Linked DNA regions of Homo sapiens. The protein of the gene in region 1 purifies or fractionates together with the protein of each later gene. This does not show direct contact. Each region holds a gene or a part of one and is shown on either strand. Other genes may lie near its edges.

Region 1 (10,436 bases):
CTGAGTCAGCACTACCCATGGTCACGTGGGAAGGGCATAATCGGGCTCCAAGGAGGGCGGTCCCTCCGACAGGAAAAGTTAAGGCCTGGTGAATTCACATTACAGGACTGAGGAGACTAAGGGGGCACATTCTGGGGGTGGTAAAAATGCATTTCATTCCCTCCAGGGAAAATGCTGGGATGACTCATTCCTTAGGGAATCCTGTCAGAGATGGACCTTTCTACTCAAGCCCAGACTGAAACTCACGGGAAAAAAAAAAACGAAACCGTGACAATCCCCCCCAGGGCTTGTCTGGGCTTTTATCTGGATATATAAAAATGGATTAAGAGGATTCACAGTGCACAGGCCCTGATTTGTTCTCCTTTGAAAAGATAAGCTCACATAGAGTCCCAGTTATTTCTGCGTTTCAAGGCTGTGCACTACTGTGCCAAACATCCTAATCATTTCCATGTAAAATACCTAAGCTATGTGTAAGGAGAAGGAATTTCTGCTAAGACATGTTGGGGTTAGGCAGACACAAGGAGAAGGAACCCGAATGCCAACGTAAATTGAGAGCAAACTGCACAGATTCCACACCCCTGTATTTTTACTATAAAAATGAAAAGATACTTAAAAAAAACTGGAAAAAAATTAATACTGTTTTCACCTTGAAAACGAAATTTTAAAAAATAAAAACAAAGCCAAGCTTTTATCCATTTCACTAATATAAGAGCAGGTTATTTTCCTGGCAATGGAAATATCCTCAACAAAAGTTTATAATTTCCTCTTGGAGCCAAAGAAACCATTTCTTCCAAAAAAAATGGCATTTATTCTACTGAATGTATTTTTTTTATTGCCATTAAGCAATCTTAGTGAAGTATAGTTAAGATGGGGTTATATTTTTTCTTTGTGTTTTTCCTGACTTTTCCAAATTTTCTACCACGAGTGTGTATTACTTTTGCAATCAGAAAAAGGTTAGTACACTCTTTTAAATTAATAAAAAATTCAGTTAACACTTAAGATGTCAAAAAAGCACCCAAGTAACTGCTTCATGGGTGCAGAATTTTATTTTAGGGTGAGGAAAATAGTTTGACACTAAATAAAGGTGGAGAATGCATGACATTGTGAATATACTAAATGCCACTGAATTATTCACTGTAAAATGATTAATGTTATGTGACATGAATTTCGTCTCAATTATAAAAAAATGAAAAAAATAGCACCCAGTTCCTTCAACTTTTCTCAAAAGCAGTTACCTTCTCCATGTAACAGCGATGGGTCTAGGAGCTCCATCATGTACTCGATTTCAGTGTCCAATTCAAGCATGTCACACTGGGCTATGACATAGGTCAGGACTGGCAAGAAGTCATCAGCGCCATACATCCTCCCTGAGAGCAGGAAGAGAAGGAGATGGAATATTTTTACCAACTTTTCTTTCTTTCACATCCTTCTTGCTGCTTTTATTAGACAGCAAGGAGTCACTCTGGGGGGAACTGTGCTATTTATAAACAGAGGTGAGTGTTTCTGGAATCCTATGTAGCCTCTGACCCTCCCAGCTGCTAATGTTAGAGACCAGCCCTTACAGTTTCAGAATGAATGTCTATGAACCAATGAACACATTACAGATTTTCTCCCTACTTTTATAATTTGTATAAAATTATGTGATAGAACAGAATACTCGTTAAAATATTTTAACTTTCAGCAAACAAGATTATAAAATGCTTACAAAATATTTACTTATGCTAATTCTTTGTGTCTTACTTCCTCTTTCTTGCTGTGCACATTATTTACAAACATAATGACAAGGTCAAACTCAAACCAGGAATAAGCTAACTTTGCTCTGTATTTAATGTGAGCACACAGTTAATTTCTTTAAACGTGCCAATTCAGTACATGTTGAATATACACATTGATTAATGGAAATATATGGCAAAAAATGTTAGTGTTTACTTCTAGTTTTCTTTACATCAGTGGTTCTCAACTGGAGATAATTTTGTCCCCCAGGGGACATTTGGCACTGTCTGAAGACATTTTTCATTGACATAACTGGAGGGTGGGGATGCAGATGACATCTGGAATGCTGCTAAACTTCCTACAGGAAGCAGGGCAGCCCCCAAAAGAAGAATTATCCTGTCTACATTAATGTCTTTAGTGTGTGTGTTGAGGAACTGTGCTTCAGAAGAGCATAATCCTTCTGAATTATTTGGGGAATTCAGATATTCAGATATTATTTGGGGAATTTTTATAAATAACTGTGAACTATAGAAAATATGTTTCCTATATGTGAAATATGCTTGCAAACTTGTGAGGTGATGTTCACTTGCTATCATTACCACGCCCAGGAGCTCATATTTTAACTTCTTCACTCAACAATTCCCAAAGTGCACACACATTCCTGTCTACTCAAGCAGTGGTTAATACAGCCTGTGTTTTCTCTCTGCTGCTTCTCCATTAAGCAATTTCACTCAGAAGAAAAGTTCGTAATCGTCTTCAGAATTACAATAAGCTTACTGAAGACCTGGGACAATGCAGGGCTCCATTACTATCCAGGATTCATGGTTACCCCTGCATCTACAGGAAACAACAAGGCTAAATCTGAGGGCTGGCTTTCCAAGATTGTAACTCTTCGGTGAATTTCAATTATATTGCTTCAGCTTGTAGCAAAGAAGGGCTAGCCAATGAAGCGGCTCTAATGAGGCCTCATTATAACTGAATGTTCAGAGTTTCTTTCACATACTATAGGTCATTGACACAAACCCTCATTGGCCAAAATGTTGTAATGATAATCGCTGACATTTCCATTGCACTTGGGGCTATGTGTGGGCTGTCTCAGCTAATCCCCACCTCATGAAAGAAAGGGTGACATCCGGCTAAAGACGCAGAAAACTACAGCGTGCAAGGTTGATTAAGGGGGCCAAAGTCCCTCAGTTAATTTTCTTCTTCTCGGAGGGAAGATTTGAACTCAGACTCCAGAGACTGAATTTGTAACCATACTCTGAACTAAATCTTTAATTAAATCGGCCTGGTACAAAAATCTTGTTGCCCTCATCTGCTTACATTTTAATCTGTTGCATGTGACTAATGTGCCGGATATCAGAGAATCACTTGTAGTTCTGTAAGCCACTTGGTGAAATCAAGAGACCAAAGGGAGGAGAAATTGGGAATCAGAAAGCCTGACAGGAGAGAGGCCTGTCCCCGGCCCGGAAGGGAAGCGGCACGAAGCCTGGGCTTCCAGCGGCCTCACCTGAGTTGTTCTCCATGACCGTGTAAATGAGCTTGCAGACCCGCAGCAGCAGCATGACCTTCTTTTCCGGCGAATACATCTTCTGCATGGTCATGAACTTGACTTTGATTTTCTCCACATCCACAAAATCAGGGGTCGGGGCGAAGACCCCCAGCTCCTGCGGATTCCTCTGCCGCACAAGCTGCAGGTTCTCCTTGAGTTGCTTCCATGAGCCATCGGCCATGTGAAAGTCCTTCAGCATGGCCTCCACGTGCCCCTTGAGGGGCTTCAAGATGCACTTGTGCATGGCTTTTTCCAGCACCACATCTGCCAAAGAAAGTGTAGCTACTATGACTATTGTCTGAAGAAAGAAGAAATGCAACATCTGCTTTCTTACAATGGACATCTGCAACTCTATGCATTGGTTGCAGGCACACAAATTGTACACCTTAACATCCAACCAACAGACAACACCAAGCAGCGCCATAACTCACATGTTAACATTTTTCTCTGAAAAGCCAGGAAGACCGAATCTTCCCCAATGATGTCTAACTTGCATATAATCAATACAATGAAATATATTTGTTTTAATTACTTTCATGCCCTATCCCTGTAAGTACAGGCAAATATGCTAGAAGACATTCTTTTGACCTAGTCCTTCAACTGGTCATCCAATTAACAGGAGAGCAAAGATGTTATCTTAAAGGAAGGATTTTCTAATAATGAGCATTCAACATCTCTTAGAATATTTTCTGAGGGCCAGGCGTGGTAGCTCACATCTGTAATCCCAGCACTTTGGGAGGCTGAGGCAGGCAGATCATTTGAGGTCAAGAGTTGGAGACCAGCCTGATCAACATAGTGAAACCCCATCTCTACTAAAAATACAAAAAAATTAGCTGGGCATGGTGGTGCACGCTTGTAGTCCCAGCTACTGGGGAGGCTGAGGCAGGAGAATTGTTTGAACCCAAGAGGCAGAGGTTGCAGTGAGCCAAGATTGTGCCACTGCACTCCAACCTGGGTGACAGAGTGATACTCCATCTCAAAAAAAAAAAAAAAAAAAGAATGTTTTCTGAGGAAATAGATCCACCTAAATATAGTATGTGATCTTGGATCAGATTCTGGACTAAAAAATTCTTCATTTGCTATAAAGGACATTAGTGGGGCATCGAATACAGCCTGCAGATAAGGTAATAGTGCTAACAAGGCATCAGTGTTAATTTTCTAGGTCTGATAATTATACTGTAGTTATTAAACAGAATAGCCTTGTTTTTAGGAAATATGCATTGAAGTATTTAGGGGTAAAGGGATATAATGTCTGCAACTTAAATGGTTCAGAAAAAATGAGAGACAGTGTGTGTGCACGTATTTGTGTGCATGTATGTGTACGTGCATGTATCTGTGTGTGTGCACGCGTGTGTGTGTGTGTGTGTGAAGAGAGAGAAAGAAGAATGAGGCAGATGTGGCGAAGTGCTAACATTTGGGAATCTGAGTGAAGGGTAGATATTTCTTTATGATATTTTTGCAACTTTCCTGGAAATCTGAAATGATTTCAAAATTAAAAGTTAAAAATGTGTGAAATGTGTTTCTGTTCCGAGTTAGGAAACACCTTTGGGTGTGGGAGGCGTTATTCTTCCCTCCTTCATTGAATGGTTTCCCAGTGGAGTAGCTTTCTTGGCTAATACTAAAATGACCAGTACCATAAATCCAGAGATGCGGGCTGAAGGCTATTTATATAATAATAACTCCTCTGCTTTGTCAATAGCAGCTTTTTGACCTCACACGTTTGCACATTCTCATCTGAGCCCCTTGGGTTCTGCTGCAGCATCTACGCATAAAATGATGACACCTTAATTTTATTCCATTTGGGAAGCCAATGGGTCCACTTACATATAAGATCAGAAATAGTTAAGTTAGGCCAGGCATGGCGGCTCATGACTGTAATCCCAGCACTTTGGGAGGCTGGGGTGGGCAGATCACTTGAGGCCAGGGGTTCAAGACCAGCCTGGCCAACACAGCGAAATCCCATCACTACCAAAAATACAAAAAATTAGCTTGGCGTTGTGGCGCACACCTGTAATACCAACTACTCTGGAGGCTGGGGCATGAGAATCTCTTGAACCCTGGAGGCAAAGCTTGCAGTGAGCCGAGATCCTGCCACTGCACTCCAGCCTGAGTGACAGAATGAGACTCTGTCTCAAAAGAAAAAGCAAAAGAAATAGTTGAGTTGTCTCTCTGGCCTTTGGAATTCCTGACGCTGGATCAGATCTTATTGAATTCAAATGATTACCTATTATTAGAAGGCCAGGGACAAAGATAAATCTAACGCAGAGGTACAAACAATGAAAACAGTCCCCCAAGGTTAAAACTGAGGCCAAAAGTTAACGCTGACCCCACAATCATCAGATTCCCCAGCCCAAGTTGTTTTTTTCTTTCTCCTCTTCCAACTTATCCAGGAGATCTCTTTGTTTAAATACAAAGGTTTATATAACTATAGAAATCAAGGTTGATGCGAAGGAGGTTATAAAGTAGGAAAAAAAGCAGAACAACTTATTCACATCTGGCATTAAAACAAATTACTTGGTTTACATTGGTTGCTTTGTGTTAATAAGCTCGTGCAACTTCATAGCATCTTTGACTTTACCTTATATCATCATTATGATAAAAAATTAATAACAGAAATTAATATTGAGTGCTCAGATGGGCCAGCCTCCATCTAAGTGCTTTACTTCACTATCATCTAATCCTTGCAATAATTCTATTATTTTTGCACAATACTAATATTATGTCCGTTTAACAGATGGGGAAACTGAGGCTCAGAGATGACTAATGGCTTGATAGAAGCCACACAACTATTTTAAATAACCATTTATACAGCTTTTCAAAGTAAATAATCTTTTAATTGTAAAGTTCAAGTCACTTTATAAATACTCGCCAGTTTATTCCTCTCATCCAAACATTCTGAAAGCTACATTCATGGTTGTAAGTGACCACTACTTGGTTAAAATAGGGTCACCACGGGAGGACAAAGGCCATGTCAGTCATTAATTAGAAACGTAAATGAATGTCCATAGTAATGTTATTTATAATAGCCCCAAGCTGGAAATAACCCAAAGGCCCATTTGGACAGAAATGAATACATTGGATATATTCATTCAATGGAATACTACAATGAAATTCAGACAATGGAATGTATTTATTCAATGAAAAAGCTCACATTACTGCTCCAGAACAACATGGATGCATCTCATGAACGCAAGGCTGTGTGAAAGAACCCAGACACAAGAGTATCTCCTACAGCATTTCGTTTATATGAAGTTCAAAAGCAGGCAAAACTAACCTGTGGGACAGAAGTCATGATGGCAGTCCCCCTTGGGGAGGATCTGGGCCAGGACAGGACACCAGGGATTAGAGATGTTCTGGATCTGGATCTGGACTGTGTCTACATGGGTGTGCATGTGTGTAAAATTCTGTTGAGCCGAGTACTTAAGATTTACACACTTTATGGATGTAAGTTAAACCTCAATAAATGTATATGAATCAGAAAAACAGAAAACAACTAAAGACCTGGATGAGATTTTCACCTTGAACCCCACGGGCAACTGTTATCATCAGAGTGAGCCCGGTCACCTCTGGGCCAGAGTGTTAATACAAATCATCCCCAAAAGGCTCGCAGCTGCTTCTGGGGAATGATGACATCAGAAAAGTCGTTACTAGCAAGTTGGACAGGCTCCCTTGAGCAACTCATCCTTGCTGCCAGGGAGGGGTGCTGGCCTTCGAGGGGAATTCCACCCTTGGGTATAAAAGGGGCTGTGGAAATCTCTTAGGAGGGTTGAAACCTAGGACCAATTGCCAAGGGAGTAGCCCGTTTTCTGAAAATAAAATGAAAAAGTAATTGCTAGTGGTAGATTTTAGGACATTTTTCTTTAAAGACCATAATTTAAAAATAAGGAAACTGGTCCCTGCATTTTTTTTTCAGAGGTTTATCCCACTCCTCCTCCCCACCCTCCCCAAATCCTTAATAAACATAAAGAGTAGGGGACAAGAGCCTAAATGAAAAGAGGGACCCACGATCCAGCTGGCTCTCTCCAATAGGAAAAGCAAGCTTCTGCTCATAAAGCGAGAAGGAAAAAGGATTTGAGGAGCCCAAGGAACAGACGATCTTTCATAACATGAACCACCTCAGACAAAAGAGGAAAGAACAAATTGGTCACATTTCTCATAAATTACTACTCTCCATTTTTTTCTATGATCTCTTTTTGCATTAATCGTTAATTCCTGGACAAAAAAACAAAACCTTTTAAACTCTCAGAACAATGACACTATTCTAGCCACTTTACCTGCACTGGATCTTCAAATCCTCAGACAAACTCCATCCAGGGAGGCCTACTATGTTTTCATTTCACAGATGAGGAAACTGAAACCCAAGGACATCTTTGTCATGCAGCTATCAAGAGGGAGAGCCAGGACTGGAACTCATAAAATGTTTCCTGAGTTCTTGGAGTAATGTCAACTGTATTCATCCACAAGCACGCGTGCAAAACAAACACCTGAAACCTTTACAGATGAGTAAGATGAGTATATGCTTTTAAAGCTCATTAAGGTCTTTTTGTTGTTGCTGTTGTTGAGATGCTGGGGGTCTCACTATGTTGCCCAGGTTGGCCTCGAACTCCTGGTCTCAAGGGATCCTCCCACCTCAGCCTCCCAAAACACTGGGATTATAGGCATAAGACACCATGCCCAGCCTCACTCATTTCTTTTCTATTTTTCTAGTAACAAGCAAATAGTAAAAAATCGTTTGAACCACAACATATTGAACTTTAGAAACTAAATGTTTCTAAATGATCAAAACTGGAAACAAGTTTTCTGAAAATATTTATCAAGATTATATCAACTGGCCCCAAAATAATCCATAAGAGGAAAGTGGTAGAGGCCATAGCAATTGCTGGCTTTTCCTTGACTAAATGTCACTTACTGTAATAATTTATAGGAAGTATTCAATGTGTTGGCTTCTAGACAAGAAGTGATTCACTCTTATTACTTCTCCAAGAATTGATTCACTCCTCCATTAAGGAAGAGAGACAGAAACCTTGACCCTTTCCTTCATGCTGACCACCTACTGCATGGATTCCAGAGGCTGGAGATAGACAAGGAAACATCACAAGACCAGCAATTCAGTGGCTTTGTTTGTACACTTTCTGCATTTCCACTGCTGGCCAGAAGGCAGTGAGACTTTGAGAGGCAAAGCTGAAGACTGGAGAAATTGCTTGTGTTAGAAAGAGCCCTGGGAGCCGTGGGGAGGCCAAGTCCCTTCCCCTCTCACTGCCACTGTCTGGACAGCCATCAGAATCATTGTCCACAGAAGGCAAGACAGAGCCAGCAGTCTGAACCTAACTGAGTTGGTGATTGTTCAAACAACACAAAGTAAAAATCAATACTCTCCAGGGAATCTAACCACACCCAGAGTCTAAACCATGTAATATAATCACATGCTTCATAATGGCGTGTTTTGGTCAAAGATGAACCACATATGCCAGGGTGGTCCCATAAGATTCTTATTTATTTTTTTGAGACAGAGTCTCACTCTGTCACCCAGGCTGGAGTGCAGTGGCACAATTTTGGCTCACTGCAACCTCCATCTCCCAGGTTTAAGTGATTCTCCTGCCTCAGCATCCTGAGTAGCTGGGATTACATGCATGCACCACCACACCCAGCTAACTTTTGTATTTTTAGTAGAGATGGGGTTTCACCATGTTGGCCAGGCTGGTCTTGAACTCCTGACCTCAGGTGATCCACCCACCTCAGCCTCGCAAAGTGCTGGGATTACAGGTATGAGCCACCACGCCTGGCCCCATGAGATTCTGTTACCGTATTTTTACTGTTCCTTTCCTGTGTTTAGACGTGTTTAGATATATAGATACTGAGCATTGTGTTACAGTTGCCTACACTGTTCAGTATGTCACATGCTGTCCAGGTTTGTAGCCTAGAAGCAGCAGGATATACCATATAGCCTAGGTATGTAGTAGGCTATGCCATCTAGCTTTGTGTAAGTACTCTATGATGCTCCCACAACAACAAAATTCTCTAACAGTGCACTTCTCAGATGTATCCCTGTAGTTAAACAACACATGATTGTATTAAAAATGTACAGGTGTGTGATGTCCCCCACCCTGTGTCCAAGTGTTCTCATTGTTCAATTCCCACCTATGAGTGAGAACATGCAGTGTTTGGTTTTCTGGTCCTTGCGATAGTTTGCTCAGAATGATGGTTTCCAGCTTCATGGGGGCCTGTTGTTGGGTGGGAGGAGGGGGGAGGGATAGCATTAGGAGAAATACCTAATGTAAATGATGAGTTAATGGGTGCAGCAAACCAACACGGCACATGTATACATATGTAAAAAACCTGCACGTTGCACACATGTACCCTAGAAGTATAATAATAATAAACAAAAAATGTACAGGTTACAACCTAAAGTTACTTGACAAAGATACAACATGAGGTTAGGGTGGGAGGGAGGTGAGGGTGGAAAAATTACCTATTGGGTTACAATGTTCATTATTCAGGTGATGGGTATACCAGAAGCCCAGACTTCATCACTACGCAACATATGCATGTTAGAATTCTGCATGCGTACTTCCTAAATACATAAACATATTTAAAATTTAAAAATCCATGAGTTTAGATCATGTGACCTCTTAGCTTATTTTAGTTCTAGCATTCTGATTTTTTTTTAAAAAGGTAAAGTAGTAGAAATAGAAGCTAATGTTTGATAACAAGATATGGGCCTTTTTTTTGTAGGGAAGTCAAATTGTGAAAATGTAAACATTTATAATTGCTAACATTTATTGGGCATTTATTTGAGCACTTCCTATTCTAATATTATATGTATTACCTCATTAACCCTCACTTCAGCCCTACGACGCTGGGACTACTGTCATTCTGTCATTCATTTTACAGATGGCCATGAAGCTTGGAAGTCAGGTGACTTTCCCAGATGGTGGAGAAGAAATGCAAACCAGGTAACTTCTATTTCCGACAAGTCAGGAGATGGCACATAGACCTCTCTTGGTACAAAAAGGGCAAAACAACTTGATGCTTTCTTTTTTTATGTGCTAACATATTCTCCTTTGGCTGTATTATTGGATTAAGGATCAGAACTAACATTGAGTGAAAGCTCAGTATGTCTACTAAGCACTTTACAGGTATTTAAACAATTCTTTGACTAAAATGGGTGCAT
Region 2 (10,436 bases), on another chromosome or scaffold:
AACCTAAGGAGTCTGTGGAGAGCACCAACGTCCAGGACAGCTCAGAAAGCTCGGATTCCACCTCCTAGAGCATGCTTAAGGTATTCTGTCTTCCCTGACCCAGTACCCCCTTCTCCTAAATCCCTGCATCCTGCCTTGGCCTGCCCAATTCCATCCTGTCTTACCCCATTCTGGCCCTGCGAGATTTTACGGTAAAAACCACCTGGTGACCTTAGGGAGAAGTTAGAGTGAGTTGAGGGAGACTCATTACACGCTATTGGAAGTTAAATAGGATACCAGCTCATGCTGAAAGTAGATTAATTTCAATGAAGAAACAAGCATTTATCCTGCTTTTTGGGCATGAGTTGTATTTCAGGGTAACCACGTAGTTGATGAAAGGCATTTTTTTCTTTATGGAATTCCAGTTAGTAATAATGATAGAAATATAAAATCATCATTTTCCAACTCTTGATGAAATAATGGACCCAGCCAAGAGTCATCAATGGCTAATAGCATTAGGTAAAAGTTGGAGCACTTTGTAATGATGGATCAGACTGACAACACTTGAAGTCAGTGTAGTCAGTCTTCACTAAACGTGGAGACAAATATGTGTCTCCTTATGCAACAGGAAGTGCACAGTACTACCTATGAAATATTCTTTCCAAAAGAAAATTATGAGATCTGACTACCATTTTACAGAAAATAGAGGGACTTGTTAAACTATACCATGATGCAAACAGCCAAATCCAGAATGAGAGGTTTTTACAAAACAAATGACCTGGTTTCTTCAACAAATAAATGGCACACACACAAAAAAAGATGAAGCATTTTCTGTTAAACTTTACAGATACATTAAACTCAACTGCTATGGACATTGTTTGGATACTGATTCAAACAAACCATGTATAAGACATTTTTGAGATAATCAGGCAAAATTTGAACGGGGACTATATTAAGGAATTACTAATAATTTTATTAGAGGAGCTAAATGGTATTGTATTATGTTTAGAAAGTCCTTATCTGTTAAAGATACATACAGAAATAATTATAGCTGAAATAATAGGATGCCTAGGATTTCCTTTAAAATAATCCAGCAAAAAAAGAAGAAAAAGATTGAAAGAGGGAAAATGAAATAAGAATGGCAATGATAATTGTTGGGTTGGGAAATGGGTACTTAGGGGGTTCCTTATGCCATTTACTCTTTCGAATGTGTGAAAATTAGCATGAAAAGTTAAAGAGCCAAAACAATTACTGTACTTTTTTTTTTTTTTTTTGAGACAGAGTCTCGTTCTGTCGCCCAGGCTGGAGTGCAGTGGCGCGATCTCGGCTCACTGCAACCTCCACGTCCTGGGTTCAAGCTATTCTCCTGCCTCAGCCTCCCAAGTAACTGGGACTACAGGCGCCCGCCACCTCGCCTGGCTAATTTTTGTATTTTTGTATCTTTTTTTCTTTTTTTGAGATGGAGTCTAGCTCTGTCGCCGAGGCTGGAGTGCCGTGGCACTGTCTTGGCTCACTGCAAGCTCCGCCTCCCGGGTTCACGCCATTCCGCTGCCTCAGCCTCCCGAGTAGCTGGGACTACAGGCGCCTGCCACCACGCCTGGCTAATTTTTTTGTATTTTTAGTAGAGACGGGGTTTCACTGTGTTAGCCAGGATGGTCTTGATCTCCTGACCTCGTGATGCGTCCGCCTCGGCCTCCCAAAGTGCTGGGGTTACAGGCATGAGCCACCGTGCCCGGCCTAATTTTTGTATTTTTAGTAGAGACAGAGTTTCAGCATATTGGCCAGGCTGGTCTCGAACTCCTGACCTTGTGATCTGCCTGCCTCAGCCCCCCAAAGTGCTGCGATTACAGGCGTGAGCCACCGCGCCCAGCTCTTGTACTTCTTAATACACACTTATGCTAATACTAAGAAACCACTGAAACTAAGTTTTAAAGGATTGGTATGTTAGAAACAACTTAATTGTAATAATATACCACAGTATTTCTTCCATCAAAGGACTTTGTATCGCCTTAGGAATTTCAAGGGTCGGTGAGCTACTGGCAGTTTACAGGCTTTAACATCTTAATCTAGTCACCTTACCCTTACATGTATGAAAGGCAGCAACTTCTCATGGCAAAGTCTAGTCATAAATAGTGTATTCTGTATATAATTTCAGTAAGTGCTATTTGATTAGTCTACTCATTCATAAAAATATTTGTCAGGCATTAGGCTTGGAGCTGAGTATACAGCAGTGATCAAGACAGACTGATGTTTATATTATATAGCATTTAAGAATAAATGGACTTTTTTTTTGCATTTTAATGCCAAAACCGAAGCTATAACACACTAATCCCATTTTATTTTCATTCAGTTACAGTTCAGTATGTTATAAAAATTTAGATACAGTAAGTCTTTGGTGGTTAGAAAGAATCTGTCCTCAGAGGAGATTTTGCATCTGACTTTTAATAACCTGAAAGTTTCACAGTGACTGATTCATTTTTTCTAAAAAATAAAGCCGGCAGAACAGTCTAAAAGCAAAGATGAAATTAAAACTTGATGCCTTGAGAAAGCGTTGTCAAATTTACACCTGTCTTGAAAACCCTGGAGGGCTCTCTCAAGACTCTTTGAATGCACAAACCTTTTAAAAAAAATTTCAACTTTCAAATTCCTTCGTAGAAGGACTTACACAGTATTGATCTCATCTTTGTAGTTATTTGCTTCTCTTCATTGTTAAACTCTAGCTGAGAACAGAGCTAATCAGAGGTTGTTTTAAAACCATATATATATATATACACACACACACACACACACCTATAAAACTGATGAATTCAAAAGCACTTAATATCTGCTATGAGAAACAAAATAACTGCCACTGTAGTAAAAGAAGAGAGAAATAATAAATAAGAAAATTCATTGTTGTGTCACAGTTATAAATTTCAGCATACAAATTCAAGAATAATTGAACTGTTTCTTTATGATACCGTAATTGAACTTTATTTCTAAGTTGAAGGAAATGTTTCCTAGACTGAGCTTCACCGTCTTTCTGAGTTGTTATCTGCTGAGACATATTCAATGGCCCCATCCAATCTTTGATCCTCAGGATTCACTTCTGGGTCTTTTCCAACCGGAGGTCTCTTACCATTTTGGTAGCAAGGGTATATGAGTATTAGTCTGCACAGGCTAACTGCTCTAAAAATTAACTTCCAAATCTCAGTAACTTAACCCAATAAAATCTTATTTCTCACATCATAGTACAATGTGGGTCATCAGTGTGGTGGTGATGTGGAGTAGAGGGGAAAAGATGGACCCTACTCCATGGTATCATTCAGGGATCATTTAGACAGGGATTCTTAATTTTCTGTAGCTCCCTTTGGCAATCTGGTGAAGCAGAAAAATTTTTAAAAGATGTAAAAATTATACCAGATTACAAAGGAAAACAATTTCATTGATATAGTTATCAAACTATTTTAAAAATACTTTTGTTGTAATATATGTGCTTTGTGTTAGCATATTGAATAGCCTAATAATTACTATTATTTCAAAGTAAATTTTAGTATAAATGATATTTAAGATACCTTAAGTATCTATAATGTGATATGAAAATACCTATGAGTTTTATTGGTGACAAAGTCTCAAGTATTGCTAATACTACTGTGCATTGATTCCTATGTTCATAATTTAAAGAATTGCCAGATTTCAGTTAGAGGTTGATGAAAATACAGAATTGTTTTTGTTCCAAATCCAAGGTCATGGTTCTCCTACATCTTATTAAATAGATCCCAGGTTAAGAACTCCTAATTCAATGACTCTTGTCATTTTCTAGGATCATAAGACCTTCAACTGGTTCATATACATTCAACTAGCAGATGAGAGAAAAGAATGTATATAGTGGTTAATAAAGGTTTTAAAAGTCAAGTCTTACCCAACTAACTGCAGGGGAGGCTATGATATTTAGTTTAGCTTTGTGCTCAGGAAAGAAAGGAAGGAGTTCAGCAACAACACAGCATAGTTTCTGCCACAATAGGAAACATCCTAGTGGTGCTCTGGACTTTGAGAAGTTTTGCTTCCATGCCCAGTTAGAAGCAATGGGATCATACAGCTGCTCTCACTCCATGGCATGGCCCAGGGAACTCTGTTAGGCTGTCTGAGGTTGTCTACATAAACACCTGACATATATTTATTCTGCTGCTTCACAAACTTGGGCGTGGAAAACTATGGGATTCTGTTATCTTGCTGCCATTATGCCACTAATTAAACCTGGGACAAATGACCCCTCTCCTCTGAAGTCCCCAAAACTGTCTAAATCTTCACTTGCATCCCATTTAATAGGGATTCACCAGCACATAGGTCTAGCTCCCTGAATGGAGAAAGGCTACAGTGAAGAAAGAAAGAACAGGAAAAACATTTAAAAGGCTCATACTGCAAAAGTACTATCCTTCTACAATTGTGGTGCTCCCTCCTGTGGAGCTGGAGTTCAAATACCTATAGAAAAAATGTCCTAAAAAAAATATTTTTCATTTTCCCTATCTGTACTTTTGGATTTGGGAACAGAGACAGAGTTAGAAGTGATGCTGAGCAGGACAGTTGGTGAAGAACTGGTTGATTTCATCTAAAAAATGGTAATAAAAATTGCTCTTCACACTATGAAAACGCACTGTTTTGCAGGTATTAATTCTAAGCACTGTTAATGATGTGTTTCATTTATTCCTCATAATAAGCCTGTGAGGTAGGTACTATTACTCCATTTTGTGGTTGAGGAAATCATGTCACAGGGAGGGCTGCATGTTATACAGATAGTGGAAAACAAGGATGCAAACTCAGGTGGTCAGACTCCATGATTGAGAAGATTAAATGAGTCAATCTATGTAAATTGCTAAGCACAACTCCTCACACACAGTAAAATAATCAATAAATTTTAGCTCTTAATATAATCGATAGTAAGAGTAACTTTTCAGGTTCTCTTCTTCTCCACGGTAATCAAATGATAGAATGTTGTGTATGAGCAGCAACAGTTTGCAATCTTGGATGGGAAATGCATCTTAATGATTAAAATAGCTTTCACTGACAAGCTAAATGTCAAAGCATTCAGCTGAATCAACGCTTGTCAACGGCAGAGTTTCTTGGGAGCCATAGCAATGAAGACAGGTCAGTTCAAAACATGCTGGTTGAGGCAGGAATGTCATCAAACTGCTGCTTATCTCTTGACAAGAAATATGTGCTTGATTATTAATAACAAAAATGAAAAAAATGCAAAATCTTAGTGTTTTCAATTGAGCTGGCAACATTGAGTTAAGTAAGGTTACTTCAGTGACTCTCCCTTTCTGGTTTATTCTTTGTGTCGCTAAACTGTCATTCTAACAAAAAGTTGTTAAATGTTCACATGAGCAGTCACTGAAATAGACTGTTCTTAATTTTACCAGACAACTAATTATAACTGGAATGATATAATGAAATATGGAAGAAACCTACAGACTGACAGGTCTGGTAAATTCGTAGTATAACCTTACCCCAGATATGCCAGAAACCATAGATTTCAAATGCAACTGCACTCTATGAAGATAAAGAGGGGGTTGGGAAGAGATAAAATATTGTTTTGAAATACTAATCAGATAGATGCCATTTGTTGAATTATTTATAATCTCTAACAATGTCACCTTTCAATCAGTGTATGATGTACATGTAGGATGACTGAAATACCAACTTTGTCAGAAGTAACTGATAAAAGCAGAGGTTTTTCCTAAATTTTGTACTCTATGCTCTAGTATATGAAATCCAATGGGCTTTATGGTACAGGAGGTTAGATAGAATATTTAAAATTCTTTGAATGGGCAATGATTCAAAGAGCCACCATAAAAGCCTTTCTGAAAATATTCTACAATGCCATTTCTATAGATAAATATCTTTGGAAAATTATAGGATTTTTTTTTAAAGTAAAGCCATAGTATTCTGTTTCATGTTTATAACACCATATCGACAAATAGCATGTATTTGTCAGGCTTCCATAGCCCACCTTTAAGAAAACCTGATAATGTAAAACTTTGAACTTAATAAGCAAGACATTAAGGGCTTGGGGTGGGCACAGCGGCTCATGCCTGTAATCCCAGCACTTTAGGAGGCCAAGGCGGGAGCTTTGCATGAGGCCAGGAGTTCAAGACCAGCCTTGAAAACATAGCAAGACCTAGTCTCTACAAAAACTAAAAAACATTAGCCAGCGTGGTGGTGTATACTGGTGCGTGCTTGTAGTCCTAGCTACTCAGGAGGCTGAGGCTGGAGGATCACTTGTGCCCAGGAGTTTGAGGCTCTTGTGAGCCATGATTGTACCACTGTGCTCCAGTCTGGGTGACAGAGCAAGACCCTGTCTCAAAAAAAGGACTATAATACTAACATTTTAAAGGGAATCTTTATGAAAAATACCTATACTCTTAAACAACAAACTATCCTATAGCCTTTATTACAGTGTTATTTGACTTTTTCAGTTTAATTTCTTAAAATTTTCAAGCAGTATTTACTGAGATAACTAAAACAGCTATATAACTTCTTTTGCATGCCTGTTCATGCAAAAATGAAAAAGGCAATGATGATAGTCTTTCTGACCTGTTCCTCCATATCTTGTGTCTCTTTTGTTATAGCAAATATACTTTAAAAAATAAGATTTTACATAGTATTACCTCTTACAACTGGCTTCACTTGTTATTCTGGCAACAGAATTTTCTATAACAATGATTTTGTACAAAAATGCTTTTTAACTGCTCTGTGCATAATAGTCAGCCTCAATCTTATTTACTTCTGTGTGCATATGATAGATGAAAAGGTACTGAGTAAATATTTATTGAATGAATGAATGAATGGACCTCTCAAATTACCCATATAATAAATTTTTTTAAAGGAGAGAAAAATAATGTATGTATGATTCCTCTTACCTGATATAATTACCTACTTCCTCTTACCTGATGTAATTAGGGCACTTTAATTTGTGAATAAAGAAACATTATGGTTATTTTGGTTTCCTGTCCAGGCCTCAGAAAGAAAATATGACTTATAGAGTTGGACACATTGCATCTAACTTATCAAGAGCTAAAAAGGCCTTTCATTTCTTTAGAATTGGAATAAATTTTCTTTTGAGTGGAGTAGGATGAGATAGAATTTAAAGATGACAAGCAAAATGATCTCAGTTTCTTTAGTTTTAAAATAGGTTCTTTGGGGGTAAATCCCAGTTTTTTGGTGTTCTTCCTGTCCCTTTCTCCTGGCAGAAATGTCCTTTAGATGTCAGGAAAGGTTCATGTGTTCTTATGGCAGGGAGGGGAGAGAGCCCCAGATCTGTGTGTGGTCTTTGTGCAGTCATCTGAATTCTCACTGACTGCCATGGAGATATATCTAGTCCAAACTAGTTACTGGGTTTCTTTATCTGCTGTTCCAGTCTATCATTAACTAAACCAGTATTCTTTCAGAGCTGTCAGAGCTTATAGCTCTCCCTTTCTCATTTGTTTTCTTCTCATTTTTCAACAGCATTTCAGGTCCTCATGTCTCAACCACATCTACTCTGTGAACCCTGGCTTAGTCTGTCTGCTCTGCAGCATCTGCTGTGGGGATCATCTCACAGTGACCAGAATGGCTTCTCACTCTTAACTCTATAAACAACCACCTTTCACATATCCTGCTGGGATCATGAAGGAATACCTGGACACAAGAGCCACTGCACAACAGCCAAGGAACTTTGAGACCTGCCATTACAGAACCTTTCTTGGCCTACTCACACTACGCTGCCATTTTATTCTGTTTGTAGTAGTCCTCTGTTGGGTGTGGTTATCCTGCAAGTTTTTCTCCTTTTAGAATGATGAACAGGAAGCAGGGCAAACTCTTGAAGATTTCCAGCTTTCAGTTTTTGTTTTTGTTTTTTAACCATTATTTACCTGAGTTTTCATCCTTGAGGAGGTGAAGTAGTCAGGACCATGAAGTCAGACCTCATGCCCTCTTCCTCCTCTTTCCTGGAAGAAGTATTCAGTTTCCTTTTCCTTTCTCTGGTAACTCCTCCTTTATACTATTCCCCCCTCCCTTTTTTTTGAGGAGGAGGGCATCACCTTCCCAGTGGGAAAAGGTGTTAAGTTAGGAGCTTCTACTGTACAATCAGAACTTGGAGATTTTAAGAAAAGGACAAACGGTAATTAAATTGGAATCTCTAATGTGCTTGTTTGTGTTAGTTTTTTTGTGATTATGTCACTTGGCATTTATTGAGTACCTGCAGTGTTCACACACAATGCTGGAGCCTTCATTAGTTACATATTTAACCCTCTCAGCAACCCTGTAAAGTAGGTAGTATTATCCCTGTTTTACAGATGAGGAAACTGAAGCTCAGAGAAGTGAATTAAATATCCTGGATCTGAACCCAATTCTGTTTGAATTCAAAGCCAAAGTTCCTTCTACTTTTCTGTTCCTACTCTTTGCATTTTATTTATAAATGTGTTAAAATTTTAGCAAAAATGGAGAATCTGCTGTTTAAAAATGTGTTTGCTTAATACATGGCTACTGTATGTCAATTGTAAATATTTATATAACCTACAATTATAATCTATTTTTATTATTTTTCTCTAGTAAAAATAAGTGAAGACAAAGTACCTTGACCTCTGCAGTAAAAGTTACCAGATAAATCCAGAGTTATCATTACTTAATGTTGTTTTTATGTTCACTGAATGTGAATTACCAAAGTATATAACATTTTTCATGTTTAAACTTTTATGAAAACTGGTGTGTATGGATTTAAGTCAAAGCCTGGACTTTATCTGGTGACAAGAGGTAAGTCTTTTCTGTGTAATCGTAATTAGCCCTGCTAAGCAGTTCTTACAGATCTACCCTAGTGCACTCTAAGAATGTCTGCCTAATGGTAAATGATTGCCTGAGGCAGATATAAAAGTTTTTCCCTACATGAAAGGATTTGCCATTTCTTGTGCCAATACAGTATGATAAAATCTATCTTTCCATCTTTTCCTTTTTTCTTTTTAATATTCTATCTCAACGCTAAATTATTTTATTCTTTCCTCTCAACCATGTGTTTATCTCTTTATTTTTAAATATTACAGCTTTCTAACATCTGTCTCTAGGGCAGCATAATCTTACTGATGAAGTATTCCATGTTTTCCTTGAGCTTTTGTCAATATGTCTTTGTGTTAACAGCTTAGCAGATGGAGAAACAGAAGGAGTAGCCTCAGCTTACCTGAATGATTTTTTTCCAGCACCAGGCACATTGACTTGCTGTCTCTAGTAACTTGATAGGAGTTGGAGCAATTGGAAAATGGGAAATGATATATGACTTCTGCAGTGTTATTTACTAAAACAATTGGCATTTCTTTGTTATCATTATATCTTCTTTCCCAGTCTCGTACCAGGAGAAAGCAGAATTATAGCAGCCTATCTGGTTTGGGCTATAATGAAAATAAAATAAACAATAATACTAATATTGCTTTGGGCATAGATTAGCATGTTCATAATGGTTCCAGGACAGTAGCGGTGATTTAGCAGCAGCAGTGGCTTTTTGAAACACAAATTGTGAGAGTCTGTGGCACCATTTTTTTTGTAATAGCATTGTTCTTTTTACACAGGAAAAGTGATTTTTTTTTTTTTAATTCTGAAGGGACTTTTTACTGAGGCACAGTCCTAGAGAGAGCAAAGCAAGGCTTTGAAGCAAGGAGGGAGGACAGTTAATGGTGTGAATACCCTTATACTAGCTATATTTTATTCACTTGCAGCTTTAAATAAACTGGATGTGCTCAGGTCTGCTAGCAGATTATTTAAAGATATTGATCAGCTCACTACGTTTTCTTTGGTTAAAAGAGGAAAACTTGTGAATGAAGCCTGTGAGTTCCTAGTTAGAGTCTGTGTGGTTTTCCCTTTGGAGATAAGAGCAAGAAGCGAGAGATGACCATCTGAAATAAAAATAATGGGGTGTGGATATATGGGAGAAATGGGGAATAGTACTGGGAATTAGTCCACAGCCAGGAAAATTTAGAAAGGATCAGGACTGAAACACTGGAAAGAAAGTTTTCTTTATTTTTTATGTGCAGCTAAGTCATTTGGTTATTATGTTAAAAAATGCAGATTTTTTTTTTTTCAGTATGTCTGGTGGGGCCTGAGTATCTGCATTTCTAACTAGTTCCTACATTGCTCATGTTGCTGGTCCCGGAACCACACTTTGACTAGTAAGGGTCTTAAAGCTCATCTCCAACCCTTGGACTGGGGTCCAAAACACCTGTGACTATCCATTAGGTCATTTAATAATAGATTAGACCCTAAATAATTCAGATTCCCCTTCTTAAATATACATTTACATAAATCCTGTTTGAGTTTATGTCTTGATGGCCTAATAATTTCAATAAAAATAGAGTTTGTTAAAAACGTGTACAACAAAAAAGTGTATATAGTATAAAATGTATTGATAATATTATATCTATTAGGATGCTTTGATATAACAATTTTGCCTCATTGGC

What was found.
Region 2: the proteins of RIN2 (region 1) and NAA11 purify together in Homo sapiens (affinity purification with mass spectrometry; 2 studies listed by BioGRID and IntAct, with this or other methods). This does not show direct contact.

What each region holds. Positions count from the first base shown.
Region 1 is NC_000020.11:19,983,099-19,993,534, reverse strand, and holds part of RIN2 (ras and Rab interactor 2), read right to left. Parts: intron 3,530-10,436; coding exon 3,224-3,529; intron 1,368-3,223; coding exon 1,236-1,367; intron 1-1,235. UniProt on the Homo sapiens protein: Ras effector protein. May function as an upstream activator and/or downstream effector for RAB5B in endocytic pathway. May function as a guanine nucleotide exchange (GEF) of RAB5B, required for activating the RAB5 proteins by exchanging bound GDP for free GTP.
Region 2 is NC_000004.12:79,314,820-79,325,255, reverse strand, and holds the end of NAA11 (N-alpha-acetyltransferase 11), read left to right. Parts: coding exon 1-68; 3' UTR 69-80; intron 81-7,464; 3' UTR 7,465-8,609; downstream 8,610-10,436.